3 separate regions of the Homo sapiens genome follow, and all the other regions are linked to region 3. Evidence: fine-mapped expression QTL. A gene starts in region 3. Each other region holds a variant in brackets. All regions are shown on one strand. Distances are from middle to middle. Region 1 has its middle 22 kb from the start of LINC02561. Region 2 has its middle 27 kb from the start of LINC02561. Region 3 holds the start of LINC02561 (long intergenic non-protein coding RNA 2561).

The links.
Region 1: its variant is fine-mapped to the expression of LINC02561 in whole blood (INTERVAL, PIP above 0.99).
Region 2: its variant is fine-mapped to the expression of LINC02561 in whole blood (INTERVAL, PIP above 0.99).

What each region holds. Positions count from the first base shown.
Region 1 is chr10:5,287,315-5,298,397 of GRCh38, forward strand. No RefSeq gene overlaps it. Among named protein-coding and RNA genes, the nearest start is that of LINC02561, 22 kb to the left of the region's middle. RefSeq lists an enhancer at 3,873-5,072. The variant G/C (reference allele first, on the strand shown) is at 6,773.
Region 2 is chr10:5,238,596-5,249,678 of GRCh38, forward strand. No RefSeq gene overlaps it. Among named protein-coding and RNA genes, the nearest start is that of LINC02561, 27 kb to the right of the region's middle. The variant CA/C (reference allele first, on the strand shown) is at 4,838.
Region 3 is chr10:5,265,268-5,276,350 of GRCh38, forward strand. LINC02561 (long intergenic non-protein coding RNA 2561) reads right to left here and starts at 5,969. Exons shown (of 2, transcript NR_149060.1): 1 at 5,931-5,969; 2 at 722-1,418. It also overlaps the pseudogene AKR1C7P. RefSeq lists an enhancer at 6,272-7,471.

The DNA.
Region 1 (11,083 bases), 22 kb after region 3:
ACACGCTCTGCCTCAAATTTCAAACAGTGGATAGTCTAATGACTACATCTGAGATTCTGCCCTAGCAAGCTTCCTAGAACAGCAGGACAAAAGACAGCACAACACACACGCAGGAAAAAAGCTTCTCGTTCCTGCAGTGACTTAAGGTAAAAACACCAATTAGAGTATTAAGGAAGCTTCTTTTTCACTTAGTGCATTTGAAATGTCTGAATATTAAGCACGTGCACGTATTACAATTTATTATGGTAAATGAGGGGGTTATGGGGAATTTTGTTCTATTCTCTATGGCACTTTTTTCTGTCTTTTCTAAGAGTAATAAACATTACATATAACATATGTAAGACACACATTATGCCTAATGGATGAAATGGATAATTATGTCATTGAAAACCTACTGACCCTTTCTGGCAGCTGTTATCTCGTGATATCTCATGACAGAGTTCTACCAAGATTGAGCCCATCCATTGGTCTCTCATTTTGGGGGCAATCCCTCCAAAGCAACCCCAAAGCTGCCCTTACGTTACCGTGACCAGAGTGTGACACTTCAAGTTCTCTGCCATGAACTGAGTGGATGGCTGTATTTCAGTCCTTACTGTGATGTTGTGCCCCCTAAGTCTTCCCATCGAATTACCTAATGTTCTGAATCACAGTGGCTTCTTACGTGACAAAAGGTTTGGATGGTCGAAACTCCCTGGCAAATACTTCCAGCCCCAACAACCTCACAGCAAAGCTGCCAGCAAGTATTCATGTTGGTTTCCACTTCCCCCTAGGCCCTTGGCCCTTCACATTTCTAACCAGGAGTGGAGCGGCTCTGAGCAGGTGGAAGATGAGAGCAGCCTGAGCATGGGTTTTTTTTTTTTTTTTTTTAATGTAAGAAGTAGTGAGTACTTACCAAGGACGGTTGTTGAAGAATTAAATAAGATAATGCATGGAAAATACAATACATGAAACCATTTGATATATGTTAGGTCACAATAATAATAATAAAAAGAATTATCCAAAAAATTAACCTCCAAACTCTCAGAGTCAACAGCTTATCATCCTCTTAGTGCAAAAAAATATAAGACCCTTCAGCCTCCTGGGGTCCACTTACATGATCAGGAGCATAAGTGCCAAATCCCAGCATCGGCATGACATGTCCATCATTCAGCCTCACGGAATGGCTTTGCTTCAGATCCATCACCACCCACAGCTCAGCTAATCTGACTCTGCCTTTCCTTCCATTTCCTGACTGAGAGCCCAGTAGGAGACAAGGCTGCCACGTTCTTTATTTCCATCAATACAAGATGGGCAGGGCAGAGATTACAGCTGCCTATAATTTCAACATGAAGTTGAAATCAATCCATTGACTTTGTTCTGATTCTTCCATGTCTCTGCAGGCCTGTCTTACAGGAAAATCGTACAGAAAGATTTGCATGCTAGAGGAGTTTGAATTTTCTCTTCAGTGTTGTACACACTTGATTTCTAAGTTAAAAAATTTAAAATGCCAAAAGAAACTATCAACAGAGTAAACAGACAACCTACAAAATGAGAGATTTTTACAAACCATGCATCTGACAAAGGTCTAATATCCAGCATCTATAAGGAACTTAAACAAATTTACACGAATGAAACAAACAACCCCAATAAAAAGTGGGCAAAGGACATGAACAGACACTTCTCAAGAGGAGGCAAACATGCAGCCAACAAATATGAAAAATGCTCAACATCACAGATCATTAGAGAAATGCAAATCAAAACCACAAGGAGACACCATCTCACACCAGTTAGAATGGCTATTATTAAAAAGTCAAAAAAATGACAGATGCTGGCAAGGTTGTGGAGAGGAATGAACGCTTATACACGGTTGGTGGGAGTATAGATTAGATCAGCCATTGTGAAAGACAGTCTGGTGATTCCCCAAAAGACCTAAAGTCAGAAGTGCCATTCAACCTAGCAATCCCATTAGTGGGCATATACCCAAAGGAATATAAATTCTTATATTATAAAGATGCATGCTTGTGTATGTTCATTGCAGCACTATTCACAATAGCAAGGACATGAAATCAACCCAAATGCCCATCAGTGATGGACTGGATAAAGAGGATGTGGTGCATGTACACCATGGAATACTATGCAGCCATAAAAAAGAATTAGATCACATGCTTTGCAGGAATATGGATGGAGATAGTGGCTGTTATCCTTAGCAAACTAACACAGGAACAGAAAACCAAATACTGTATGTTCTCACTTATAAGTGGGAGCTAAATGATGAGAACACATACGGGGCAACAACACACACTGGGGCCTATCAGTGGGTGGAGGGTGGGAGGAGGGAGAGGATCAAGAAAAATAACTAATGGGTACTGGGCTTAATACCTGGGTGATGAAACAATCAGTACAACAAACCCGCATGACACAGGTTTACCTGTGTAACAAACCTGGACATCCTGAACACGTACCCCTGAACTTAAAATAAAAGTTCAAAAAAAGCATGCAAATATGTCTTTGATAATGGCACCAGACTTATTTTACAAGGTATAAAACTATCATTAGGCTAGTGAATCTAAACACTAATTTTCCCAGAGTACCTAAGTTAGCTTCCTCACCATTCCTTTCATCATAAATCCCATAACAATACCTCACTGAAAATTTATTGAACAAAGCCTGACACCTGGTCCCAAGCACACACGTAACAACATTTCTTAGGAAGACCTACTCCTACTTTCATTATCTTTGTCTCCTGTACCAAGGACCGTTTCGTTTTTTGATTCTCATTGTCTTGTTTTCTTTTTTTTTTTTTTTTTCTTTTTTTGAGACGGAGTCTCGCTCTTTTGCCCAGGCCGGAGTGCAGTGGCGCGATCTCGGCTCAGTGCAAGCTCCACCTCCCAGGTTCACGCCATTCTCCTGCCTCAGCCTCCCGAGTAGCTGGGACTACAGGCGCCCGCCACCACGCCCGGCTAAATTTTTTGCATTTTTTTAGTAGAGACGGGGTTTCACCGTGTTAGCCAGGATGGTCTCGATCTTGTTTTCTTGAATCCTTTTGGTGAGAAAAAATTGTCTGAAATCATGGATAAATGTCTGTATTCTTGCCTTTCTTTCAGCCATTGCCTCTTTCTGGAACAGCTTTCTCTATCCCACCTAGTTTTCAGCAGTTTAATGACTTCTTACTTATCTAAAATGCACCTCCTCCAGTCACACATCCTTTATGACTCCTTCTATGATCTCCCTAGATGAAGCTGATGCCCTTCCCTGCATACTCTTTAGCTTCTACCGTCCAGGCCAAAAAACCACATCATTCAAATTACATTCTCAACTAATAAGGAACTTCTGCTACATAAAACACCTAACTCATGTTTTCTTTAATGTTTCTATTATACTGTGCTTCTTGCAACCTGTATTTGTGCCATCCGTATTTTACAGCCAATTATGAAACATACAATTATAATTTATCTTACTTTCAACTCATCCCTCTGGCTGGTCAAGGTCAGAACTCTGTCTGATTCTATGAGTCCATGTGGTTACATTTATCTCAACATTGTGTTTGCTATAAATTTGATGAGAATATCCTTTATATTCCATTGCTAAAGCTTTTGCACTAAATAGAGATGTTCCGTATCAAGTCACAAGAAAATTCTGTCTTCATTGATGTGAACTGCCTGGAGTCCACAATTCAACAGGTTAAAAATTTGTCTAACGTTCAGTCCACCCGCCAGCTAAAAACTGAGGCCTTAAAGAACTGAGCAAGCTTGTTCTCCTCTCAGAGCTAGTCTCAGCCACCAGCATCACCTTTTTAGCTGCACTGAAAGAAATCCTGGCGGGTTTTCTCTAGTGGGGACCACCAGATAGGATGATGAGGGGATAAAGAATTTCTTCCCACCTTCTTGGTGATGTCTTTGTCCCTGTGTCACTCTCATTGAAGTAGCTCCCCAGTCCCTACTGTGTCTCTCCATCTCACTCCTCAGTTTTAGTTTCTTCAGAACAATTGTGATCAGAGCAATTGCCTGAATTATTCACACCAAGTGAGTTATTTATCAGAGGAATAAAGGATGTTTGAGCCATTCCATATCAAGTATCATCTTGTTTTAAAACATTTTGCTGGACAGAAAGAAAAGTCATTATTTACAGCAAAACTACAAAGAGTTGGATACAGCCCCAAAACTCTGATAGGAGATTTAACCATACAGAACAAGAGTTCAGCAAGGATGCTGCAATTCACGAGGAAAGGCTAACCCAGGGTTATGAGAGAAATGTTAACATTGCATGGCGATAAAATGCCAAATACCTTGCTGTGGTTTGAATGTGTCCCCCAAAGTCCATGTGTTGAAAGTATAATCCCCAGTGCAACAGTGTAAAGACGTGCCCTCTAAGAGGTCACTAGGTCATAACGGCCCTGCTGTCATGAAGCACTGACCTTATTATTGCGAAAACGGGTCCATTATCGTGAGAGTGGGTTTATTGCAAAAGTCATTTCAGCCCTCTCTTGTCTCTCATCCTCTTACCCCTGCGCTCGTGCCCCCTGCCTTCTGCCATGGGATGACACAGCACAAATGTCCTCACCAGATGTGGGGCCTGTGATCTGGGACTTTCAAGACTCCAAGACTGAGCCAAACAACTTTCTGTTTTTTATGAGTCACTCAGTCTCGGCTATTCTGTTACACAACAGGAAACAGACTAAGACACACCCATATAATCCTCTCTGAATAAATGGGAATCCATTGTCAAGCAACAAAGAGAAATGCTGCCCGACTCTCTGGGGAAACACACCTTACCCCTCTTTTACCACCCCCACATAAGTAGGGAGCCAAAAAGATCAGCTTTCAGAGTTCTCAAAATGCCTTCTGAAAAGTCTGGTTAAGACCACACCTTCTGACCGGGAGTCTGGTTCGTTAAGACTGCTGTGACAAAGTACTGTACACTGGGAGGGTTATAAACAAAAGACATAGATAGCTCACAGATCTGAAAGCTAAAAGTCCAAGATCAAGGTGCTGGCAGATTCAGGGTCTGGCGGGGGCCTGCATCCCGTGTCACAGACAGCTGTCCTCTCACTGTCCTCATGTGGCGAAACAGGCACGCAATCTCTCTGGGGGCTATTTTATCAGAAGCACTGGTATAGTTTGGACATTTGTCCCTTCCAAATCCCATGTTCAAGTTTGATCCCCATTGTTGGAGATGGAGTCTAATGGGAGGCTTGGGGGCCATGGGGTAGACGCCTCATGAAGAGATGAATGCCCTCCCAGGGGAGGGGGGTAAGGTCTTACTCTATTAGTTCCCATGAGAGCTAGTTGTTAAAAAGAACCTGGCCCCTCCCCTCCTTCCTGCTTCCTGTCTCACCACACGATCTCCGCACACACCAGCTCCCCTTCACCTTCTTCCACACTTGGAAGCAGCCTGAGGCCCTCACCAGAAGCCCAGTCCTGAAACTTCCAGCCAGCAGAACTGTGAGCTGAATAAACTTCTTTTCTCTATAAATTACCCAGCTTCAAGTCCTCCTTTATAGCAACAATAAATGGACTAAGAGGGGCTCTAATCCCATTCATGAGGGTTCCACCCTCACGACCTAATCACCTCCACAGGACCCACCACCAAATAGCATCACCTTGGGGGTTAAGGCTTCATATACGACTTTGGTGGGGATGTAAAGATTCCATTCATTGCACAGGGCAAAGGGAGGCCATAGCAGCAGGGTCATAGTGTTCTGGGGCTGCTCACTGCCCCTCACTCCCAGGCCTGCCCCACCCCAGCCAAGGCCTTCATGCTGCTCTGGGCTACCTCTCCCAGGTCCTGCATCCCAAGCAAAGGTACAGACTCAATTGAGATCTCCTGAGACTCACTCCCTGCCCCTGCAACAAGATGGACATGTCCTTGTCAAGTTCTTCTCTAGGAAAATGTGGGCATCACATAGAGACTCGTACCTACCTGTGCAGAGGTTTTCCAGAGCCTCGATCACCCCCTCTGTCTCATCATTGGTTTCTGGCTTCAGTCTCACCTTCTTGGTGATGTCTTTGTCCCTGTGTCATTCTAATCAAAGTAGCTCCCCAGTCCCCACTGTGTCTCTCCATCTTACTCCTCAGTTTTAGTTCCTTCAGAACAATTGTGACCAGAGCAATTGCCTGAATTATTCACTTATTTTGTGGTATGTTTTCATATTTATTGACTGATTTCTCCAACACTAATCACCACACCTAGAAAAGCTCCCTAGTATGTGGTCAGTGCTCAATAAATATTTGCGGAATGAATGAAATTGAGTTCTAAGCATAGGCACAGTGGGGTTTTTTTTTTTTTTAAGTTTTTCTGTGCTCTGTTCTTATTTTCTGTGATCTGCAAACTATCTCTAAATCCTTATGAAAGATTGCGTCCAACACTGTTTTTTGCAGTGGGAAATTGAGAGGCCCATGTTGCACTCAAACAGAGCAGCAAAGCATTCGTCATCCCTCCCCTCAGGGCTGGGACTAACAGCAGGGCCTTCCTCAGCAGAGTACAGCTATGCCCAGCTGAGTGACAAATGCTCTAGTCAGAGAACACAGCAGCACAGGAGGCCAGCATGGTGGCCACAGGGGGAGTTCACGCGTGGCCGCTTGTGGACAGGTGCAGGGTGGCAGCCCTGAGGAGGTTCAGAACACCAGGGGCATCTTGAGGTAACAGCATCAGTCATGAACCAGGATATAAAAATCCATGCTGCTTATTTAAACAGGATGTGTAATCAGACGGTTGGAGTATCTACAAAGAAGCCAGTCAGGAAACAATAAAGCAACCCAGAGGCTTTTAAACACAGGAAGTCGCTACCCTCCTA[G/C]GCTAGAGAAACAGAGGTAGCAGTGCTGGAGGCAGAGCCCGGGGTCCCTGGAAGAAGCAGCAGCCATGGAGGGCCTGAGGGAGGCAGCCAGGACGACTGGAGGGATGGAAGCTGCTGCTGTGTCCCCTAGAGAAGGGAAGAAAGGCACCTGGACTCCAGCTTCCCTTTCTGCTCTCAGCAGCGCCTCACAGTGGCCAAGTCCAGCTGGAAGGCAGCAGGCAGAGAGGGCAGCACCCAGGGCAGAAGAGGCCGCTCTCCTGGGCTACAGCAGAGCAGGAGAGGGAGGAGGAGGGGCACTGAGCAGACAGGAGTGTCAGTCAATCAGGCTGACCCTGGCCCCGCATCCTCAACGGGATGTTAATGAAATACCGCCTTCTTCTGTAGTTCAGGCTGATGGGGCAGGAATGCTGGGTTATGTAAGTGTCGCAGTGTTCACTGAGGGGGATAACACGAAAAACTTATTTGTTCCTGGGAAAATTTCTTAAATCTCATTAAGGCTTCTTAAGCATTCACAAGATTAAAGCCACCTTTGCCAGAGGTTAGGATTAATAGGTGGGGCTAAATAGCCTACCTGAAATTCAGTTCCAGAAATATTTACTGAGTATCTTTTATGTGCAACTGTTCCTAGGTTTTGTTTGTTTGTTTGTTTGTTTGTTTGAGACAGAGTCTCGCTCTGTCGCCCAGGCTGGAGTGCAGTGGCGCGATCTCGGCTCACTGCAAGCTCCGCCTCCTGGGTTCACGCCATTCTCCTGCCTCAGCCTCCCGAGTAGCTGGGTGGGACTACAGGCGCCCGCCACCACACCCGGCTAATTTTTTTGTATTTTTAGTAAAGACGGGGTTTCACTGTGTTAGCCAGGATGGTCTCGATCTCCTGATCTCATGATCCGCCCACCTCAGCCTCCCAAGGTGCTGGGATTACAGGCGTGAGCCACCGCGCCCGGCCCCTAGTATTTTTTTTTAAATCAGGCATGTAAGAATAAGTCCAAGAGTTCCACATTCAATTTTGTGAGGCTATATCTTCACATGTTCCCTTGGGCTGGGACTAAAACAACAGCCTTCCTTGAAACTAGGACGTGGGAGTGATGGTACTAGGGCAATTGCATCATGATGAAAGAATACCCGAGACTGGGTAATTGATAAAGAAAAGGGGTTCAATTGGCCCATGGTCTGCAGGCTGGACATGAAGCATGGTGCTGGCATCTGCTTCTGGGGAGGGCCACAGGGAGCTTACAGTGACAGCGGAAGGTAAGGGGGGAGCCCGTGTCTCACACCACAGGAGTAGGAGCAAGAGAGAGCAAGGGGGGACAATGCCACACTTTACACAACCGGATCTCCAGAAACTCACAGCGAGAATGAACTCATCACAAGGGGATGGTGCTGAACCATTCGTGAGTGATCCAGTCCATGATCCAATCACCTCCCACCAGGCCCTGCCTTCAGCACTGGGGATTACATTTCTGCATGGGATTTGGAGTGCACAAATATCCAAACCATATCAGTACTTTTTGCTGAATTTTGAGCCTCTGGTCCCAGGGGTAAACACCTTCCCAAACTGTGACCAAGAAGACGAAGGAAGGGTTTCCTATCTCTCTGGGGCATGGATTACACCAGGGAAAAACATCAGGTGTTTGAATGCCAATGGCTCTGCCATTTGTAGATTGTAACACATGATCAGAAGAATGCAACAGATTGAATATCCAGCTTTGCTAAGGTTGCAGAGTTTGGTCTGAGCTAGGAGTCCACATTCTTCACCAAGGTCTTCCTCAGAATCTATGTCATGGGACCTGTGCTTGCTGAAGGGAGATAAGCCACAGCTGAAGGCACTCCAACTTCAGAGAACACAGCTCCCTTTAATACGGAAAAGCTTGCTGCTATCAGCACCCCAAGTTTTCTCCTCTCCCAGCCTTGGGTTCTCTACATGCATGCACTGCAGGAAAAGAGGAGGTACTCAGCATTCAAAAGAGCAGTCAGGAATAATGGCCATTATGAAGAATAGTTGGAGGTTCCTCAAAAAGCTAAAAATAAAACTACCACTTGATCCAGCAATCCCACTACTGGGTATGTATCCAGAGAAAATGAAATCAGTATGTCAGAGAGATATCTGCACTCCACAGCAGCCAAGATATGGAACCAACCTGAGTGTTGATGAACAGATGAATGCATAAAGAAAATGTGTTATATATACACCATGGAATATTATATTGCTTCTTTTTCAACCAATTTGTTATTGGTGTATGGAAATGCAACTGAGTTTTGTATGTTGAGTTGGCATTCAGCACCTAATTCCCCAGCTTCCTTCTCCTGTTGCAGAGCCTCAGGTTGGCATACCAAAATAACATATCACCCTGAGTCCCGGAATGTCCACCTAGAGCAAAGCCCTGGACACTATGAATGACAGACAGAAGTTCATTTTGTTAAGCTGATGAGATTTGGAAGTTGTTACTTCAGCGTAATTTAATCTATCCAAATACTCCAATCTTGAGTCAGTTGCCTGCAACCATGTTTGGTTTCAAACACTGTATTAGCTGGAGCTCAGTGCCAGAACCAAGAACTGTTCTATGCCTTTTAAGCAGAAATGAGATAAATAATTTTGGTTGCTTAGAAAACACTGGTAAGGCCTGGAGATGGAAGCTTAACATGACCTCTAAGAACTGCTCCAAGAACAGTGTGTACCTGACCCCGCACATGAGTGTCTGCACCTGCCCCATCAGGAAAGCTACCTCGGAAATCCTTGCACTCAAGAACATACCTCCATCCATAGCTACGATGGCCAGAATCGGGAAGCCACAGCCACACAGTGCCCTGGACACAGGAGCCCAGGAACCACTGCACAGCGGGTGGTGCAGTGAGTGTAGCCACCCCACATCTGCCTGTAGTCACCTTGGAAGCCAGAGGCTGTGCCTGCCACCTCTAACTTTCACTGCCAGCAGAAAACACCAAATGCCCTAGGATTTGGCTGCTGCTTCTTTCTGCCTTCCAACACTTGTGTGGGTGCTTCAAAATGGCAGAACCCAATGAGCATATAGAAGTCGTATTTGCAAGGTCTTTCCACATTGTCTTAACCTCTTTGTGCTTGGCCAGTTTTGCCAATGTGCATTTATTTGTTTATTCAGTTTGATATATCCTAATCTTGTGATTCCAGAGAGTGGAATTCATTTGGCTTTCTGTAAGTTATGCTGCATTTCATTAATTGCACATTTTTTCACGTAAAATGAAATCAGGATGCAACTTAAAGTTGATAGCATGACATAAGTTAGTTGGCAGAGTTTTTTCTTTCTTAAGTAGTATATAAAATAATAATGCATCTTACAACTGTCAGCATCTTATATTTGAAGAACCCACATACCCAAGAGGGAATGTGGGCCTGCCAACACCTCAATTTCAGACTTCAGAACTGTGAGAGAATAAGTTTCCATAGTTTTAAGCCACCCAGTTTTGGTCAATGTGTTATAGCAGTTCTAGGAAACTGATGTAAGTGTGCATGAGGCAGGCAGGAAAGATGATGCCAGAGAGAGATTACTGTGAACAAAGCAACAGGATGTGAAATAACTGGTGTTTTCGAAACAATGAGACAAATTTAGGGTGGCCGGCATGAGGCAACCAAGAGTGGAATGGGTGTGGACAGAGGCTCCATCATGAGGACAGCCTGTGCCTTTCAAGGGATAGCAAAGCAGGCCTGACCCCAGCTGCTTTCACTGGGAGGGCGGGAGGCCTCAGAGGGCAACCCAAATGTTCCACCAGGTTCAAAGCCAAGCCACAGGGAGGCATCAGCCTGACAAAGAAAGGAAGGGGGAAGTAATCGGGAAGAAGCAGAAGACTGTTCCTACCAAAAGCAATACTAACAGGACAACAGGTTCATCATTGTTGGGAAATTGACCAGGAAAAAGTCACCAATGATGGGCAATGGGGCATAGTTGAAGACACAGGGGCTAAAGATTCCAGGGCTCTTCACTCAAGCTTATCTTTCTTTCTTTTCAATATTTGTGGGAGACAGACCACACCACAAAGAGACATGAATATCACAGGCATTTTAGTCTGCAGATTTAATATTTGTAGATGAAGCCATCTTTCACAACCTCGACAGGTATACCGGGCCATCGTTCTGCCAGGTCAGTCCCGCAACCACAAGGAAGAGGACCAGGAAAGAGGTTAGGGGAAGGAGGCACCCCAGCCATGCAAAGGCAGAAGATATTCTTAGACCATGGGTCCCAGGAGCTGCACAGTGAAGGGGTGACCACCAGCTGGGTTAGTAATCTGCTGTAGAAACTTGTCAGCTTCTTTCTTGAGGTTTATAGATTTCTCTCCTTAACA
Region 2 (11,083 bases), 27 kb before region 3:
CAATCAAGTCGGCTTCATCCCTGGAATACAAGACTGGTTTAACACATGCAAATCAATAAACATAATCCATCAAATAAACAACCAATGACAAAAACCACATTATTATCTCAATAGATGCAGAAAAGGCCTTCGATAAAATGCAATAGCGCTTCACGCTAAAAACTCTCAATAAACTAGGTATTGATGGAACATCTCAATAAGAGCTATTTATGACAAACCCACAGCCAATATCACACTGAATGGGCAAAAGCTGGAAGCATTCCTTTTGAAAACTGGCACAAGACAAGGATCCCCTCTCTCACCACTCCTATTCAACATAGTATTGGAAGTTCTGGCCAGGGCAATCAGGCAAGGGAAAGCAATAAAGGATATTCAAACAGGAAGAGAGGAAGTCAAATTATCTGTTTGCAACTGACACGATTGCATATTTTAAAAAGCCCATTGTCTCAGCCCAAAATCTCCTTAAGCTGATGAAACAACTTTAGCAAAGTCTCAGGACACAAAATCAATGTGCAAAAATCACAAGCATTCTTATACACCAATAAAGGCAGAGCCAAATCATGAGTGAACTCCCATTCACAATTGCTACAAAGGGAATAAAATACATAGGAATACATTTAAGAGGGATGTGAAGGACCTCTTCAAGGAGAATTACAAACCACTGCTCAAGGAAATGAGAGGACACAAACAAATGGGAAAACATTCCATGCTCATGGATAGGAAGAATTAATATCATGAACATGTCCATACTGCCCAAAGTAATTTATAGATTCAGTGCTATCCCCATCAAGCTACCAATGACTTTCTTTGCAGAATTAGAAAAAACTACTGTAAATTTCATATGGAACCTAAAAAGAGCCTGTACAGCCAAGACAATCCTAAGCAAAAAGAACAAAGCTGGAGGCATCATGCTACCTGACTTCAAACTATGCAAGGCTACAGTAACCAAAACAGCATGGTACTGGTATCAAAACATATATAGACTAAAAGAACAAGAACAGAGCCCTCAGAAATAACACCACACATCTACAACCATCTGATCTTTGACAAACCTGACAAGAACAAGCAATGCTGAAAGGAATCCCTATTTAATAAATGGTGTTGGGAAAACTGGCTATATGCAGACAACAAACCGGACCCCTTCCTTACACCTTATACAAAAATTAACTCAAGATGGATTAAAGACTTAAACGTAAGACCCAAAACCAGTAAAACTCTAGAAGAAAACCTAGGCAATACCATTCAGGAGATAGGCATGGGCAAACACTTCATGACTAAAACACCAAAAGCGATGGCAACAAAAGCCAAAATTGACAAATAAGATCCAATTAAACTAAAGAGCTTCTGCACAGCCAGAGAAACTATCAGAGTGAACAGGCAACCCTGGGAGAAAATGTTTGTAATCTATCCATCTGACAAAGGGCTAATACCCAGAATCTACAAGGAACTTAAATTTACAGACAAAAAAAAAAAAATCAAAAAGTGGGCAAAGGATATGAACAGACATTTCTCAAAAGACTACATTTATGCAGTCAAACACGAAAAAAGCTCAACATTACTCATTAGAGAAACGCAAATCAAAACCACAATGAGATACCATCTCATGCCAGTTAGAATGGCAATCATTAAAGTCAGGAAACAACAGATGCTGGAGAGAATGTGGAAAAATAAGAATTCTTTTACACTGTTGGTGAGAGTGTATTAGTTCAACCATTGTGGAAGACAGTGTGACAATTCAACAAGGATCTAGAACCAGAAATACCATTTGACCTAGCAATCCCATTACTGGGTATATACCTGAAGGATTATAAATCATTCTACTAAGACAACACATGCACACATATGTTTATTGTGGCACTATTCACAATAGCAAAGACTTGGAACCAACCCAAATGTCCATCAGTGATAGACTGGATAAAGAAAATGTGGCACATATACATCATGGAATACTATGCAGCCATAAAAAAGCATGAGTTCATGTCCTTTGTAGGGACATGGATGAAGCTGGAAACCATCATTCTGAGCAAACCATTGCAAGGACAGAAAAACCAAACACCACATGTTCTCACTCATAGGTGGGAATTGAACAATGAGAACACTTGGACACAGGGTGGGGAACATCACACACCGGGGGCCTGTTGTGGGGTGGGGGGATGGGGAAGGGATAGCATTACGAGAAATACGTAACGTAGATGGATTGATGGGTGCAGCAAACCACCATGGCATGTGTATACCTATGTAACAAACCTGCACATTCTGCACACATATCCCAGAACTTAAAGAATAAAAAAAATTGTGGTTTTTGCATTGTTGGAATTTGCTGTTTGATACTAGAATACATTCTTAAATAAATGTGATTATATTATGTATCATTTTAATGGGCATTTCTCACTTTATTTTGCTAGTGACTTATTACTTGCTGTTTATTTTATGTTTATTTTAGACTGGAAATTACATTAGACAAAAAGCAAATTCGAGTGATTTTCTTATTCGAGTTCAAAATGATTTGTAAAGCAGCAGAAACACACAACAACAAAAACACACTTAGCCCAGGAACTGCTGACTAATATACAGTGCAGTGGTCGTTCAAGAAGTTTTACAAAGACAAGAGCCTTGAAGATGATGTAGTGGCCGGCCATCGAAAGTTGACAACTACAAATTGAAAGCAATCAAAGCTGATCCTCTTACAAGAAGTTGCCAAAGAACTCAACATCGATCATTCTACAGACGTTTAGCATTTGAAGCAAATTGGAAAGGTGAAATAAGTGGTACCTCATGAGCTGAGCAAAAAATCAAAAGAACCATGAAGTTTCATTTTCTCTTATCCTATGCAACAACAATGAACCATTGCATGATTTGATTGTAACATGCAACAAAAAGTGAGTTTTATAAGACAACTGATGAGGATCAGCTCAATGGTTGGACCAAGAAGCCCCAAAGCACTTCCCAAAGCCAAATTTGTACCAAAAAAGGTCATGGTCACTGTTTGGTGATCTGCTGCTGGTCTGATCCACTACTGCTTTCTGAATCCCAGCAAAATCACATCTGAGAAGTATGCTCAGCAGATATATGAGATGCACTGAAAACTGCAATGCCTATAGCAGTCACTGGTCAACATAAATGGCCCAGTTTTTCTCCACAACGCCCAGTTGCACGTTGCACAACCAACACTTCAAAAATGGAAGGAATTGTGCTACAAAGTTTTGACTCATTCGCCATATTCACCTGACCTCTCACCAACCACCTACCACTTTTTGAAGCATCTGACAACTTTTTGCAGGGAAAATGCTTCCACAACCAGCTTGATACAGAAAATGCTTTCTGAGAGTTCATAGAATGCTGAAGCATGGATTTTTATGTTATAGGAACAAACTTATTTCTCATTGGCAAAAATGTGTTGGTCGTAATCGTTCCTATTTCGATTAACAAAGATGTGTTTAATACTAGGGAGTTTTTCTCGGTGTGGTAGTTAGAGTTGGAAGAATCAAAATAATTATGAAAACACACCATGAAATAAGTGAATAAATCAAATAATTACTAACAATGACAATTCTTAAGAAACTGAAACAGAGGGTTGAGAAGGAGACAGATAATGGGGACTGGGAAGCTACGCTGAATAGAGTGACACAGGGATGAAGACCTCACTGAGAAGATGAGACTGAAGCTAAGAACAAAATGATGAGAGAGAGGGGGTGACATGGTGCTCTAGGGAACCTCTGCTCAGACAGGTACTATTCTTGGCGTGACTCAAGTACTTTCCTAAAGGAGAACTTGACAAGGACACGGTCATATTGTTGCGGGGGGAAGGGGAGTGAGTCTCAGGAGATTCGATTTGGAGCCAATGCCTCTGCTGGACTTCTCCCGGGACGTGGGAGAAGTAAGCCAGAGACAGGAGATGAGACTTGGCAGTGTGATTTAGACTTGCGCATGCTCTTAACCATGACACCTGCTTCTGGTTCCAGAAATGTAGTGTCGCACTTAAATGTGCTCCCCTACCCGTTACACCTAAAAACAGTAAAAGTCTCTGAAATGTTGAGAAAAGAAGGCAGACTGTCTAGGGACCTAGACCCCAGGACTGAAGAGATGACTGGGCAGTAAGTCCTCTGGATCTTTTTGCCTCCTGTATATCCTGGACTGGGCACTGAGGAGGCTCATGACCTAGAAACACCAGTGGGCACAGTCAGCAAAACAAAGCAAACAAAGGTGGAGAAACAGGATGAGGTGGCTGTCTCTGGGCAGGAGAGTCAAACATGGCTAATGAAAAATGTAAGATGGTGCAGCCACATTGAAAAACAGTGAGGCAGTTTAACAAGTTAAACATACACTTATTCTAGATCCCAGAAGTTCCATTCCTAGACAACCACCCAAAAGAAAAATGTAGATTCACAGACTCCTACACAAATGTTCATTGTACCAATACTATTCATAATAGCCAAAAACTAGAAACAATCTAAATTCCGTTCACTGGTGAATAGAGAAACAGAACGCGGTACATCCATACAATGGAACAAATACTTCTCAATAAGAAGGAGCAAACTATTGGTACAGGCAAGAACAAAAATTAACCACAAATATTTTAATCAAGTAAAAGTCAAATATTTAAAAAATTATTGTTTGACTTGATTTTTATAAAATTTCTGGAAGAGGTGAAGCTTTATAGACAGAAAGTAGGTTACAGGTTACTTAGAGCTGGTGTTGGGAGGAGAGATTGCCTGCAGATGGGCACAGAGAATTTTTTTGGGGTGATGAAAGTGTTTCAAAATGAGATTGTGGTTATAGGGCCAAAAAGGGAAATCTTACCTCTTTATCCTTTGAAATTTCACTGAAAATGAATGAA[CA/C]AAAAAAAAATTATGAGGAGCGAAAAGGCATATAAGTTTATTTTTATGTGTATAGAATGGAAGAATTGCAGAAGAATCATGACCTAATAACCCAGGTGAGGTCCAGGTGCTTATATACCTCACTTCATGGGAGAAGGGGAGGTGAGGAAATAGGCGGTATGGGAGTCAATGATTTTCAGGAGAGATGAATGGACCTGGGAGGCAAAGATCATCCTGTAGTCTATTTACTTTGGATGTTGGGAGCACAGAACAAATAACAATTTGGGACAAAGTTGGTTTAGGCTGTAAATGTTGGTGTTTAATTTTCAGTCTCTTCCTCTGTTACATAAGTTCTAATCCTCTTTGGTTAATGAAATTTCAGGGAGAGATTGAAAGCAATTGTGTTCCTCTTTGTGAGTCCAGTTTCTAGGTAAAGAAACTTCAGAAAAGAGCCTAATCTTGCACTTCTTGGGAGACAAAGGGAGGAAAGGTGGGAGGAGGGGAGGGGTATGGTGGGGGAGACCCTGAGCCTGCTGTCTCAGTTCAGCCTGTCAAAGCTCCCTACCTTGGGGTATCATTTTCCACTTTGTAGTATGATTTTCTGAGCCTTAACACAGGGATGATTGCAGAACTCTAGACATTTGCTAAAACTCATAGAACTGTATGTTAAAAATTGGTGAGTTTCATGATATATAAATTACACTTCAATAAAGGCGCTGGCACACAGCAGTAAGTATTGTTGTTGTTACTGTTCTGATAACCTCAGCATTTGTCTAACTTCCTGCGGCATGAAAAACAGGAATGGAGACAATTTTAGGCAGGAGGAGCTGCACAGCAGAGTTCATTTGGTCTGGGGGATGGTGGGTAGGGGTGCCCTGGGGCTGAGAGCAGGAGGATCTGCTGTCTTTAGTGGGTTCTGAGTACTCCCTACTGCTCTCTTACATGCTGGGTGTCTCCTCTTTTCCTACAGTTCACACACGTAGAACACCCAAGGCTAGGAAAGGAGAAAACTTGGGGTGCTGATGGCAGCAAGCTTTTCAGTATTAAAGGGAGCTGTGTTCTCTGAAGTTGGAGTGTCTTCAACTGTGGCTTATCCCCCCTTCAGCAAGCACAGGTCCCATGGCATAGATTCTGAGGAAGACCTTGGTGAAGAATGCGCACTCCTAGCTCAGACCAAACTCTGCAACCTTAGCAAAGCTGGATATTTGATCTGTTGCATTCTTCTGATCATGTGTTACAACCTACAAATGGTAGAGCCATTGGCACTCAAACACCTGATGTTTTTCCCTGGTGTAATCCATGCCCCAGAGACAGGAAATTCTCCCTTGGTCTTCCAGGCCACAGTTTGGGAAGGTGTTTATCCCTGGGACCAGGGGCTTCAAAATTCAGCAATAATTACTGATATGATTTGGATATTTGTGCACTCCAAATCCTATGCAGAAATGTAATCCCCAGTGCTGGAGGCAGGGCCTGGTGGGACGTGATTGGATCATGGACTGGATCACTCATGAATGGTTCAGCACCACCCCCATGTGATTAGTTCTCGCTTTGAGTTCATGGGCACCTGGCTGTGTAAAGTGTGGCACCTGCCCCCTCACTCTCTTGTTCCCACTCTTGTGGTGTGAGACACAGGCTCCCCCCTTACCTTCCGCTGTCACTGTAAGCTCCCTGTGGCCCTCCCCAGAAGCAGATGCCAGCACCATGCTTCATGTCCAGACTGCAGACCATGAGCCAATTGAACCCCTTTTCTTTATTAATTACCCAGTCTCAGGTATTCTTTCATCATGATGCAATTGCCCTATTACCATCACTCCCATATCCTAGTTTCAAGGAAGGCTGTTGTTTTAGTCCCAGCCCAAGCGAACATGTGAAAATATAGCCTCACAAAGTGAATATGGAACTCTTATTCTTATATGCCTGACTTAAAAAAATAGTGTAAAGTGAGGAGGAGCCAAGATGGCCGAATAGGAACAGCTCCGGTCTACAGCTCCCAGCGTGAGCGACGCAGAAGACGGGTGATTTCTGCATTTCCATCTGAGGTACCGGGTTCATCTCACTAGGGAGTGCCAGACAGTGGGCGCAGGCCAGTGTGTGTGCGCACCGTGCGCGAGCCGAAGCAGGGCGAGGCATTGCCTCACCTGGGAAGCGCAAGGGGTCAGGGAGTTCCCTTTCCGAGTCAAAGAAAGGGGTGACAGACGCACCTGGAAAATCGGGTCACTCCCACCCGAATATTGCGCTTTTCAGACCGGCTTAAGAAACGGCGCACCACGAGACTATATCCCACACCTGGCTCAGAGGGTCCTACGCCCACGGAATCTCGCTGATTGCTAGCACAGCAGTCTGAGATCAAACTGCAAGGCGGCAACGAGGCTGGGGGAGGGGCGCCCGCCATTGCCCAGGCTTGCTTAGGTAAACAAAGCAGCCTGGAAGCTCGAACTGGGTGGAGCCCACCACAGCTCAAGGAGGCCTGCCTGCCTCTGTAGGCTCCACCTCTGGGGGTAGGGCACAGACAAACAAAAAGACAGCAGTAACCTCTGCAGACTTAAGTGTCCCTGTCTGACAGCTTTGAAGAGAGCAGTGGTTCTCCCAGCACGCAGCTGGAGATCTGAGAACGGGCAGACTGCATCCTCAAGTGGGTCCCTGACCCCTGACCCCCGAGCAGCCTAACTGGGAGGCACCCCCCAGCAGGGGCACACTGACACCTCACACGGCAGGGTATTCCAACAGACCTGCAGCTGAGGGTCCTGTCTGTTAGAAGGAAAACTAACAACCAGAAAGGACATCTACACCGAAAACCCATCTGTACATCACCATCATCAAAGACCAAAAGTAGATAAAACCACAAAGATGGGGAAAAAACAGAACAGAAAAACTGGAAACTCTAAAACGCAGAGCGCCTCTCCTCCTCCAAAGGAACGCAGTTCCTCACCAGCAACAGAACAAAGCTGGATGGAGAATGATTTTGACGAGCTGAGAGAAGAAGGCTTCAGACGATCAAATTACTCTGAGCTACGGGAGGACATTCAAACCAAAGGCAAAGAAGTTGAAAACTTTGAAAAAAATTTAGAAGAATGTATAACTAGAATAACCAATACAGAGAAGTGCTTAAAGGAGCTGATGGAGCTGAAAACCAAGGCTCGAGAACTACGTGAAGAATGCAGAAGCCTCAGGAGCCGATGCGATCAACTGGAAGAAAGGGTATCAGCAATGGAAGATGAAATGAATGAAATGAAGCGAGAAGGGAAGTTTAGAGAAAAAAGAATAAAAAGAAATGAGCAAAGCCTCCAAGAAATATGGGACTATGTGAAAAGACCAAATCTACGTCTGATTGGTGTACCTGAAAGTGATGTGGAGAATGGAACCAAGTTGGAAAACACTCTGCAGGATATTATCCAGGAGAACTTCCCCAATCTAGCAAGGCAGGCCAACGTTCAGATTCAGGAAATACAGAGAATGCCACAAAGATACTCCTCGAGAAGAGCAACTCCAAGACACATAATTGTCAGATTCACCAAAGTTGAAATGAAGGAAAAAATGTTAAGGGCAGCCAGAGAGAAAGGTCGGGTTACCCTCAAAGGAAAGCCCATCAGACTAACAGCAGATCTCTCGGCAGAAACCCTACAAGCCAGAAGAGAGTGGGGGCCAATATTCAACATTCTTAAGGAAAAGAATTTTCAACCCAGAATTTCATATCCAGCCAAACTAAGCTTCATAAGTGAAGGAGAAATAAAATACTTTATAGACAAGCAAATGCTGAGAGATTTTGTCACCACCAGGCCTGCCCTAAAAGAGCTCCTGAAGGAAGCGCTAAACATGGAAAGGAACAACCGGTACCAGCCGCTGCAAAATCATGCCAAAATGTAAAGACCATCGAGACTAGGAAGAAACTGCATCAACTAATGAGCAAAATCACCAGCTAACATCATAATGACAGGATCAAATTCACACATAACAATATTAACTTTAAATATAAATGGACTAAATTCTGCAATTAAAAGACACAGACTGGCAAATTGGATAAAGAGTCAAGACCCATCAGTGTGCTGTATTCAGGAAACCCATCTCACGTGCAGAGACACACATAGGCTCAAAATAAAAGGATGGAGGAAGATCTACCAAGCCAATGGAAAACAAAAAAAGGCAGGGGTTGCAATCCTAGTCTCTGATAAAACAGACTTTAAACCAACAAAGATCAAAAGAGACAAAGAAGGCCATTACATATTGGTAAAGGGATCAATTCAACAAGAGGAGCTAACTATCCTAAATATTTATGCACCCAATACAGGAGCACCCAGATTCATAAAGCAAGTCCTCAGTGACCTACAAAGAGACTTAGACTCCCACACATTAATAATGGGAGACTTTAACACCCCACTGTCAACATTAGACAGCTCAACAAGACAGAAAGTCAACAAGGATACCCAGGAATTGAACTCAGCTCTGCACCAAGTGGACCTAATAGACATCTACAGAACTCTCCACCCCAAATCAACAGAATATACATTTTTTTCAGCACCACACCACACCTATTCCAAAATTGACCACATAGTTGGAAGTAAAGCTCTCCTCAGCAAATGTAAAAGAACAGAAATTATAACAAACTATCTCTCAGACCACAGTGCAATCAAACTAGAACTCAGGATTAAGAATCTCACTCAAAACTGCTCAACTACATGGAAACTGAACAACCTGCTCCTGAATGACTACTGGGTACATAACGAAATGAAGGCAGAAATAAAGATGTTCTTTGAAACCAATGAGAACAAAGACACCACATACCAGAATCTCTGGGACGCATTCAAAGCAGTGTGTAGAGGGAAATTTATAGCACTAAATGCCTACAAGAGAAAGCAGGAAAGATCCAAAATTGACACCCTAACATCACAATTAAAAGAACTAGAAAAGCAAGAGCAAACACATTCAAAAGCTAGCAGAAGGCAAGAAATAACTAAAATCAGAGCAGAACTGAAGGAAATAGAGACACAAAAAACCCTTCAAAAACTCAATGAATCCAGGAGCTGGTTTTTTGAAAGGATCAACAAAATTGATAGACCGCTAGCAAGACTAATAAAGAAAAAAAGAGAGAAGAATCAAATAGACACAATAAAAAATGATAAAGGGGATATCACCACCGATCCCACAGAAATACAAACTACCATCAGAGAATACTACAAACACCTCTACACAAATAAACTAGAAAATCTAGAAGAAATGGATACATTCCTCGACACATACACTCTCCCAAGACTAAACCAGGAAGAAGTTGAATCTCTGAATAGACCAATAACAGGCTCTGAAATTGTGGCAATAATCAATAGTTTACCAACCAAAAAGAGTCCAGGACCAGATGGATTCACAGCCGAATTCTACCAGAGGTACAAGGAGGAACTGGTACCATTCCTTCTGAAACTATTCCAATCAATAGAAAAAGAGGGAATCCTCCCTAACTCATTTTATGAGGCCAGCATCATTCTGATACCAAAGCCGGGCAGAGACACAACCAAAAAAGAGAATTTTAGACCAATATCCTTGATGAACATTGATGCAAAAATCCTCAATAAAATACTGGCAAACCAAATCCAGCAGCACATCAAAAAGCTTATCCACCATGATCAAGTGGGCTTCATCCCTGGGATGCAAGGCTGGTTCAATATACACAAATCAATAAATGTAATCCAGCATATAAACAGAGCCAAAGACAAAAACCACATGATTATCTCAATAGATGCAGAAAAAGCCTTTGACAAAATTCAACAACCCTTCATGCTAAAAACTCTCAATAAATTAGGTATTGATGGGACATATTTCAAAATAATAAGAGCTATCTATGACAAACCCACAGTCAATATCATACTGAATGGGCAAAAACTGGAAGCATTCCCTTTGAAAACTGGCACAAGACAGGGATGCCCTCTCTCACCACTCCTATTCAACATAGTGTTGGAAGTTCTGGCCAGGGCAATCAGGCAGGAGAAGGAAATAAAGGGTATTCAATTAGGAAAAGAGGAAGTCAAATTGTCCCTGTTTGCAGACGACATGATTGTTTATCTAGAAAACCCCATTGTCTCAGCCCAAAATCTCCTTAAGCTGATAAGCAACTTCAGCAAAGTCTCAGGATACAAAATCAATGTACAAAAATCACAAGCATTCTTATACACCAACAACAGACAAACAGAGAGCCAAATCATGGGTGAACTCCCATTCACAATTGCTTCAAAGAGAATAAAATACCTAGGAATCCAACTTACAAGGGATGTGAAGGACCT
Region 3 (11,083 bases):
AGGAGTCAGTTAATGCTTCACTAAAACCTTGTTAATCTGTCACAGGGGGCCATATTCTTGTCTTGCATCAGTGTGCCTTTGACATTAATGATTAATTTACAGAGAAATTGAACTTATTTTGTCTCTCAAAATTGGCCCTTTCAATCTCACACACCCACCTCTTCCACAATAGTCCTGGGGCCTTGAGGAGTTGAATAGCTTTTATTTCTGGCCCTATGTCTCAGGAATGCAATTTATTTTGATTGGCATCTTCTACTGCGCCTGAAGATGAGGCTTTAATTGTTGTCAGTGTTTAAGATGTAGCAGGACTTGGTGTCCTTTATAGATCCAGGAGTCAAAGCCCTGTAACTCAATGTCACAAGGACTTTAAAAGCACATACAGAAAGATATACAGATGTAATAACCTTACTTTTTTAAAAATTTGTTCTAATCTCAGTTTTTTTTACATTCTAAGCAAACCAAAACTTAATGATAATGGCATAGGAATTCTCTCAATAAACTGTAAAATCTCTTAGGCCATTTACCAAAAGGCAAAAGAAAAGACTTTCTGCACTGCACGGAATATTATGCTGGAAGAAAAAATCTCCTTTAGACTTTGAAGAAAAATTGTTGAGTAGACTCCAGAGGACATGAAAGCCATTGATGTCCTCAACAGAAATTTCCAATATGCTAAGTTACAATTGTAAGTGATGCCTGCAGATTCTTTCACAGGCTGTTTCTGTAGTATGCAGACAAACAGAGGAATAAATCTTCCCTAAATCAGAGGGACAGGCCTAATTTCAGGAATAGGCATGAAACAGGAGCTTCCCTGTAGCCCTCAGACCAGAGGTTTCCTCCAGGGCTCAATCTCTGACCCAACAGGAATATGAGTTCCTAACTGAAACTGCCAATGTTTGCACCATTGTAAATCCACTTCTTTGATGCCCTCACTAATTATTAAAATAACATGCAAATTATAGAAAATTTAGAAAATACAAGGGAAAAGAGAATGTCACTGACAGTTTCTACAGGGTCAATGAAGGGGGTCGAATGCAGAAGTAAAGACAAAGACGAAAAGACCTATTTTGAAAGAGGGGGTCAGGGGCTCCTTGCTTCTAGAGAGCAAAGGCAGCCCTGAGTTTCTACAGTCTTTCATATTTGTTAGGTAGAAAGAGCAGGGAGGGAGAGCTAATGGTTGGTCCACTGCTTGATTTATCACAGGTCCACATAATTGCTTTCTTTGTACAACAGGCTTCAGATGTTCCTATAGATAATCACAAGGAACACTGTGCATGAGGCCTGACTGCCCTCAGCACCCCTTCTGGCGGCAGACACAGTTATCAGTTTTCCAACATCCTGCTTTCATAAGAACAGTTTTCTGTTTGCTCATATAGCCTCCAGTGGTATACTGAGTTGGTCACAACTCTCATTCTTTCAGCCTGTAACAAGAGAACAAAAATAAGCTGTAATATTCCCATTGAAAAATACTTAATGTGTATCCACCTACATGATTTTCCTATACAAATGTGTATGTTTGGAGTTTTTAGGACTTTTAAAAAATTATTTTTTTAACTTTTATGTTCAGGGATACATGTGCAGGTTTGTTATATAGGTATGCTTATTACCTGGGTGACTAAATAATTTGTACATCTCCTGCCATGACATGAAATTTACTCATGAAACAAACCTGCACATATACCCCTGAACTTAAAATAAAAGTTGGAAAGAAAAAGATGAAAAAGAATGGTTCAAATATGATGAAAGACATGAATCTACAAATACAAGAAACTTGAAGATCTGCAGAGAGAATACACTGAAAAAGACCCAGACCCACATACATTATAATCAAACTCTCAAAAGCCAAAGACAAGGAGATCATTTGAAAAGCCGCAAGAGAAACATAACTCATGAGGTACAAGGAATTCTGGATGAAGTTATCAGGAGATTTCTTATCAGACACCTTGGAGGGCATATGAGATTATATATATTTTTTAATTGGTAAAAGAAAAAAGAAAACTTGCCAACCAAGAATTCTGTATCTGACAAAAATGACCTTCAGAAATTGGGAAGTTATAAAGACAATGTGATATAAACAAAAGCTGACAGAGCTCATTGCCACTAGAACTACTCTACACGAAATGCTTAAGGGAGTAATTCACTATGAAATAAAAGAATGTTAGATTAGATGGTTATGTAAAGTCGTATCAAGTATAAAGACCTCTCATCAAGGTAAATATGGGACAAAATACAAAAACATGTATTTTTGAAAGTTTTGTTTATACTAGCTTTCTGTTCAAGTTTTAAAATTTGGCTGAGTGCAGTGGCTCATGCCTGTAATTCCAGCACTTTGGGAGGCCAAGGCAGGTGTATCATGAGGTCAGGAGATCAAGACCGTCCTGGCTAACATGGTGAAACCCCATCTCTACTAAAAAGTATAAAAAATTAGCCAGGCATGGTGGTAGGCGCCTGTAGTCCCAGCTACTTGGGAGGCTGAGGCAGGAGAAGGGCATGAGCCTGGGAGGCGGAGCTTGTAGTGAGCCAAGATTGTGCCACTGCACACCAGCCTGGGCAACAGAGCAAGACTCTGTCTCAAAAAAAAAAAAAAATTTAAAATTCAAATGTGTACAAATAACTATAAATCTATGTTAACATGTACACAATGTATGAGGTTGTAATTAGTGACATCAGTAATGTGAAGTTGAGAGAAACACAGATGTGGAAAAGGGGAATTTATGTACAGAATTAAATGTGTATTGATTTCAAAGGAGATTTTATAACTCTAGGATGTTTTATGTCATTTTCATGGTAACCACAAAGAAAACAATTATAGAATATACACAAGTGAAAATGAGAGGGAAATCCAAGTGTCCCTAAAAATCAATCAGTGACACACACAAAAAAATGTTAGTAATGGAGGATATGAAGAACAAAATGCTATAGACATACAGGAAAAGAAAAATATTAAAATGCAAAATTAAGTTGCTGTCACTAATTATAGTTATCTGTCATTTAATGATAAGAATACATTCTGAGAAATGCATTTTTAGGCAATTCAAGCATCATGTGAACACCATAGAGTGAACTTACATGAATCTAAATGGTATATTCTACTATAGGCTTTCTGGTCTAGACCATTGCCTGTAGGCTATAAACAGTAGAGTGCAGCATGTTCCTCTACTGAATACTATAAGGCAATTGTAACACAATGGTATTTGTGTACATAAACATATAAAAGGAGCAGTAATAGGTTTTGTAATCTTATAAATCCACTGTTGTATATATGGTCAATCATTGACCAAAATGTTGTTATGCAGCACATGAATATACTTTAAATGTAAATGGATTAAACCCCCACACCAAAAGGCAGATCAATTTGCAAAATGGATTAAAAGAAACAAGATCCAACTATATACTCAGCACTAGAAACTCAGTTTGCATCTATAGATGTGACTAGTATGAAAGTGAAAGACAGAAACAGATATTCTATAAAAACAGTGACAAAAAAGAGCTGTGGTGGCTATACTAGGACCAGGAAAAATAAAATTTAGTCAAAAACTGTGATAAGATATAGACAACATATTATATACAAGCATATCTCAGAGATATTGCAAGTTCAATTCTAGACTACTGCAATGCAGCAAATATGACAATAAAATGAGTCACACAAATATTTAGATTTCCCAGTACATATAAAGTTATGTTTACACTATACTGTCATATATTTAGTGTGCAATAGCATTACAGCTAAAGAAAAAAATATGCATGCATTTGTTAAAAATATTTTATTTCTGAGAAATGCCAATAGTCATCTGAACCTTCAGCAGGTCATAATCTTGTTGATAGTGGAGGTTTTAGATATGATGTCGATGCCTCCTGACTGACCAGGGTGGTGGTTACTAACGGGTGAGGTGGCTGTGGTCATTTATTTAAAATAAAATAAAATAAAATAAAGTTTGCTGCATTGATTGAGTCTTTCATGTGAGATTTCCTCTTTCATTTACACACACACACACACACACACACACACACACACACTATATGTTTTGTTTCTTGGGACAACCCTGACTAATATAGATTTTGGTATCTGGAGCAGTTCTAGAGGAATAGAATTTTGAGTTTCCTGAATTGGTTTTGGGGTTTCTGGCATTGTCAGTCTAATCAGATTAGACTTGAAAATGCGAAGGACTTTATTTCCAATAATGAAGAGAGCACTGATAGTCCATGATATGAAGTATTTATAGAGTGCACAAAACATCTGCATTGATACTCTACTTAACAACTTAAAAGAGGCAAAAAAAATAGTGACTCTGTATGTGATACTTTCAAACATTTGTGGAAAACTAAGAATAGAATGATGTTGGTTAGTTGCACCTCATATTGCTGGAAAGAGGAAGAAAAAAAAGGGTGAGCTCAGGAATTCAAAATCCTGGATTAAGCACACATGACCTAAGAGCTTCTAGGTGTGCGCTGAGTGAGAATCCTATGTCTTACAGCCACAGGGCTGAAATTGCTGAAAATCAAATGCAAGTGACACCAAAAGCACAGTCAACAGAGGAAAACATAGATGAATGAGACTTCATAAATTAAAACATTTTTGCATCAAAAGAGACTACTAAGCATCAGAAAGCAACCTATAGAATGGGATAAAAATATTTAGTTGCAAGTCATATTTCTGATGAAGCTGAATACCATGAAATTTCCTGGCAGATGCCCAGCACTCTCAACTTCATCCCAAGCTGCCTTTACTCAGCTGCCAAGACACTTCTTGGTGTCTTCAGACTTCTGTGTGAAGTTTCTCCAGAGTTAAACCCTGCATGTACCCCTAACTTGATGTAAAATTTGGATTATGATATCTTCTGATTGTACACAGATCAGACTTCCTGTTCTATCATGATTTCCCTTCTCTCCTGAATTCAGAATATTTTCTGACAGTCTTTGGATTTATACTTTGATCTAATCCTGGTGACTCCCAACTAGACTAATTGGAAATGCTACAACTGGTGAAAATTTTGTTTCCAATGTCCTTGTTATAGGAACAGAACTATGTTGCTTCATTCGCATCACGCCAGGCAATTCAGTATATTCTCTCAACGATATTCAAAAGTAAACTCTGTTTCTCTTCTCTGTGTGTGTGTGTGGATTGGTTTGGTTTTATGAGAAGGAGTCGTCCAGGCTGGAGTGCAGTGGTGCCATCATAGCTTACGTAGTCTCAGCCACCTGGATTCAGGTGATCCTTCCACCTCAGCCTCCCTATTAGCTGGAACCACAGGCGCATGCCACCTCGCCCGACTAATTATTTTATTATTTGTAGAGACAACGTCTGTGGCCCAGGCTGGATGTGTGTTTTAAGACTAAAATCTTTTAGACACCACCAAAATAAAACAACTCTGAAGTGCCTGTGACACAGGATAATCCCTAGGATCATGTGAAGGTGGACAAAGTACCCTGGTTACTTCCCTCTCTCTCCACATCCGTTTCCTCCCTTCTGTATTTTGGGGATACTATCCACTCCTCTTTCGTGCTACTGTGCTCCAGGAGAAATAAAAACATGGGACAGAATAAATCTTTCTGGGTTCACACTAACAGCCTCTCAGGGTTGGAGGGGAGCTTGAAGGCCAAATTAAACCAAGTAATTGGGGAAAGTATCAGACAGCAACAGGAATAAAATGTGAAGTCCATGGATAAACACCTTTATTATGCAAGGAGTTTATCCTAATCTATAAGAAAATGTCTGGTTCTCAAAAACAGAATTCAACAGACTTTTCCTCTGGCAAACCTGCATTTCAAACATCACTGGGAATTCATCCAGTTGTCTTCAATGAGAATCATTTCAACATGTCCTGCAGCAAATAACTCCACTGTTGGTGCTTTGATAGTTAGAAAACTCCTCTATATGGTGCAAATAATTTTCAATCCACAAATTCAGATGAGTAAGAAGAAAGAAAAGTTACCTGTTTTCTTGAAATTAAACTTCTTTAGGCTGTTGCAACCTTGATCCTCCTTGTCAAATGCCAGCTGAGGATCTGATGGCCTCACAAACGGACCCAAGGTTTTGGGTGGTCCCTCCGGGTGTCCTGCTCTGTTTCTGTGGAGACACTCATGGCTCCCAGAGCTTAGCCCCATTCAGGCCCAGCTGCTTTGCCTTCCGTGAACATCACTCCAGCTCCAGAGGGAAAAGGGATGGTTTCCACCTTCAGATATCAAAGTCTAAATAGGGATATGGGAGAGCAACAAATGAAAAAGGCTTAACATAATGGCCTGTAAAAGTAAAGAAGGATGGTCATTGGGTGGTAACTGTGCTAGGAGACAAAACCCCACCATCCAGACATTTTTCTTCCTCTCCAGGCTATGGAGATTTTCTCTCAGACAGTGTCTGGAAGATCCCACAAAATGACACAAAAATATTGGCATTCACAACAGAAACCAATCAAGGACTCTTGCTCAACTGCACTGAAAGTTAGAGTAACTTATCCTATGTGGTCACAAACTTTGGAAGTTGTCTCTTAACACAGCTGTGCTTGTCATCTCTAAAGCACTCTGCTTGGTCCTCCCAGACCAAGATAAACTCTAACCTCACAGAGAGCGGCTTAAAGTTGACAGTAGGCTCAGTACATCTGAGCAAGGCAACCCTGTACTCACTGTCCAATAAACTTAGTATTTCTTCTGGCTAACTCAAGGGAAATTATAGTGCTGATAATAGCAATGACACCAACGCTACTAGCTAAGATTTTGAGTTTCTATTCTGTATCAGGCAAGACTATCAGGGAATCCTCTCAAATACCCTACAAAGTAGATTTAACTTGTAACTTATTTTACAGAAAAGGGAACAAAAAGGGTTACTTACTTGTCCAAGGTGATTTGAAGAAGAAACTGTGTCCTGAATATGAGCTCTCAGTGAGTGAAGATTCCTAAAGACTTTTTTAGATCCATGCCTTTTGTGCATTATTTGTTATTTTAATATCACTCAATACTATAGCCGACCCCTAGAATCTACTGGAGCCATGCTGTCAGGATGACTCAGCAGTTTTCACACATTCTGACCACTCTTGTATAGGTACAAAATGCAGGGTGCATTGTAAAGAGAAAATTATTAACTTGGATGGTTGTTTGGATTAGAGTACAGGCAGGTGCAAAAAAAGTAATTCAAATTGGTTTAAAATCCACAAAAATGTGTTAGTCCCATAACAAGAAGTCCAGAGGGAGGGTAAACTCTGGGTGTCATCCATGAGAGTGCAGAATTTCTCTCATCTTCTCCTTTTTCTTCTTCTGTGTATTGATGTCGTCCTCAGGCTGGGTGGAGACTCCACAGCAATTTCACACCTCACCTTGCAATGGGACAATATCCCCTTGAAGAAGAGAAGCAACCTCTCTTCAAAGGCTCCTTCTTAGAAGTGAGAGAAACTCTCCTAGAAGTACCCAGCACAGTGCTTCTTATGTGGCGTTGGCTAAGGCTGGGTCACAACTCTTTATCCACAGTGACTCCTATGCCAACCACAATGAAATTAGCATGGCTGACCTAAACAAATTATTTAAAGTAAAACTGATGTTGGAAAGGCAATCATCTTGACTGCTGAAACCATAGTGAGAAAGTGCTTTTCTTTAAATTAGATGTTTCCAAACTTACTTGTGTAGAATAAGTGGAGTCTGATCAATTTCAATTTAGTATATTATTTAGCCTAATTTTCATACGTAAACTTCTATGGGTATTGAAAGAATGCAAAGAGGAAAGAAGAGAGACCTAATGACAACTCTTGATGAATCAAGAACTTGATAAATCAAGGTATAGTAGAAACTGCAGAGTTAAGAGACTTCATTAATATAAGATGTGTCCAACTGAAGGTTTCATAGATGAAGCACGTTTAAGTAGTAAACATGGGATCCATTGCCTGAAGTATAATCTAGACATCAGTAGAAATTCTGAAGAGTTGAGAATGTTGGCAAACTGAAAAGCTTGAGTTTTCCATATGAACAACAAAAGACAATGTCAACAGATCCTGAGAATAAATTTTAGAATAAAATAATGAAGGGCATGTATCCAGAAGGAGGAAATACAATAGGGTCAAGATTACATCAGCTTTAAAGAAACAGGTATTTATTCATGTGGTTTTCCTCTTGATATCTGAGATAAAAGTCTAGAGTTTCAGGATCCAGTGGCTGGACATAGAATTCTTTCTATTACAAAAATTAGAAAACTAAAGTTTAGTTGCTCTAAATTTACTTACAAAACTAGTGTAGTAGGCTCAGTAATGGCCCCCAAAGACATACATGCCCTTATCTCTGGAACCTGAAAATATGTTACCTTAATGGCAAAAAGGGCTTTCTTTTTTATAATTCGTTCTTTTTAATTGAGTGTCATTAAAGAGTACTTTCTAAGCAGTTAAATGCACCAGGAGCTGTATTAACATAGGGCCACAGAGATGAGTAAGAGGAGACATTCACAGTCTCATGAGGCAGATCACAGATTATACTTAAGGCCTGTGAGTATAGAAAGGTTGCTTTCACATTTTTCTCATTGAAAATGTCTTTTCTTGGAAGCCTGGTATGGTTTTACAAAAAGAAGGGGGACCTTTCAGATGTGTTTTGGAGACTGAGTATTTTCCTAACTAAAATGATATTTCGCCCTGTTTCTAAACTCCCCTCCAAACTTGGCTCTGTTTGATTAGTCATCTTTCTCCTCAACCCTGAGATCCTGCCACAGTTGATCCAATGGAACGTCATGTTTGTGAATAAACTAAAGTGAAGTTATGTTGGGTTCCTTAGAGGTGGGCTTCAGATGGACGAAGATGACACTGGAGTAAGAGTCTTGCCTCGAAGATCCGGAGAAATTCCAGAGGATCTTAACTTGGTGGAGGCCACTGGGGACACCTCAGTCACTAGCACTGAGGGTCTATTAATTTCATAATTCATTTGTCATTCAGCTTAGTGAGATTATATAGCTGAGGAAATGGGAGTTGTGAAGGTAAAGAAAGCCAAGGAAGACAAAAATTTGGAAGAAATAGTTGGTGTCTCGGAAAAGGAATGCCACAGTAAGGAGAAATGTCACTGGACACTTAGGGGAGGCCATGGAAGCAGGGCCCACTGTGACTTCCCTAGGACATATGCACATTTGCTTTCATGGACCAATGCTCTATACAAATATTAAAATTAAGTCTTACATTGCCTTGGTATAGACATGAAGATAGACGAGGCTGGATTCATTATTACATATTCATCATTGTTGTATTCTCTTTTTCTTCTGACTTTAAAATAAATTAAAGCTAGAACATTATCATGGGCTCCTATAAGTATGATGGGTCATAGACACCGTGCCTTCTATTCTAATAGGCAGTGGCCCTGCGTGCAGGACCGGGCACAGGTAGTAAGGGCACTAAAGAAGTGCATTCATGGCGGGGCACAGTGGCTCATGCCTGTAATTCCAGCACTTTGGGAGGCCGAGGTGGGCAGATCACGAGGTCAGGAGTTCGAGACCAGACTGGCCAACATGGTGAAACCCTGTCTCTACTAAAAATACAAAAATTAGCTGGGCGTGGTGGCAAACGCCTATAATCCCAGCTGCTCAGGAGGCTGAGGCAGGAGAATTGCTTGAACCCGGGAGGCAGAGGTTGCGGTGAGCCGAGATCGTGTCACTGCACTCCAGCCTAGGCAATAGAGCAAGACTTTGTCTCAGAAAAAAAAAAAAAAAAATTGAAGAAGTGCATTCACAATGGTGCAGATGTCAACAGTTTCACTTACTGACTCACATTCCTGTTGGGTCACAGATTGAGCCACATGAGGACTATAGGGAAGCTCCTGTTTCATACCTATTCCTGAAATCTGGCCTGCCTTCCTGATTTAGGGAAGATGTATTCCTCTGTTTGCCTGCATATTACAGAAAACAGCCTGTGAAAGAATCTGCAAGCATGACTTACAATTGTAACTTAGCATATCGGAAATTTCTGTTGAGGCCATCAGTGGCTTTCATGTCCTCTGGAGTCAACTCAAAGTCAAAAACCTGAAAGGAAGAAAACACTCACATTAACCTTTCCCCAGGACAGCAGCTTCTTCCTGGGAATACAAGGCTTTCCGGGGGCAGAGGCAAGGATGGCAGTATGTAAAGTTTCTGTCCTCATTGGCCTCTAGGTGAGACCTCTTCCCCCTGAGTTCTGCTACTTTTCCATCCCACCTCCCTCCTGCTCTGCTCCACTTCTCAAAAGAAAGACAACTTATCAATCTAAGACATTTCTAGAGAATTGCTTGAGACAGAAAAAATAAATTCTTTATACTAAACAAAGGCAAATCTGGACAAAATACCTGCTTCCTTGACTTGATCACACTTGGTCAGGATTTTCCTTACTCACTTCCCCTGGAACTTGACCCAGTCTTTGACTGTGCAAGCCTTGGAACACAAGACAACCTTGCTCCAAGAATGTTTTGGCCTTAGAAAAGCATTTCTTGATCAATTGTTCCACCATACCACTTGCTCACTGCAGGCCCCCAAATACTATTTCCAGCTACTACTAAGTACTACCAAATACTACTTCCTTACAAAACAAAACAAAACAAAAAAAACAAACAACAAAAAAAACCTTTTTTGAATATATTTATCTTACTTAAGCCAAGAGTTGTTTTTATTTGAAAACACATTGACACATAGTCCCCTGATGAAGAATCCCTTAAAGCAAAGAAAAAGATATGTGGTTTAAAAAAATTAAGTTCATTATTTCATGCAGAAGATGGAAAACTCAGAGCCCTATCTATCTATCTCTCCGTCCATCTATGATATACATATCTATCTAATGTGTTTCTCTCTCTCTCTCTACCTATATCTGTCCATTATCTACCTATCCACCCATACATTTACCCATCAGTGATTCATCTTAAAAATATACTCCAGAAATGACATGGTTGTCACAGGGATATGTATTAATATGTTGAGTTAAATTGAAAAATAAAATAAAATAAGATTTTTTTCTGTATGGTAACAAGGTTTAGATTTGCCTATTTGATTTTTGTATAACTTAAAAATTTTAATCTAGAGCTACAAAGTTGTGAAACAAATACATTAGAAAATATGCTTCAAATATCATCCTTTGTAATAACTAAACTCATGTTGATTTTTCTAGCT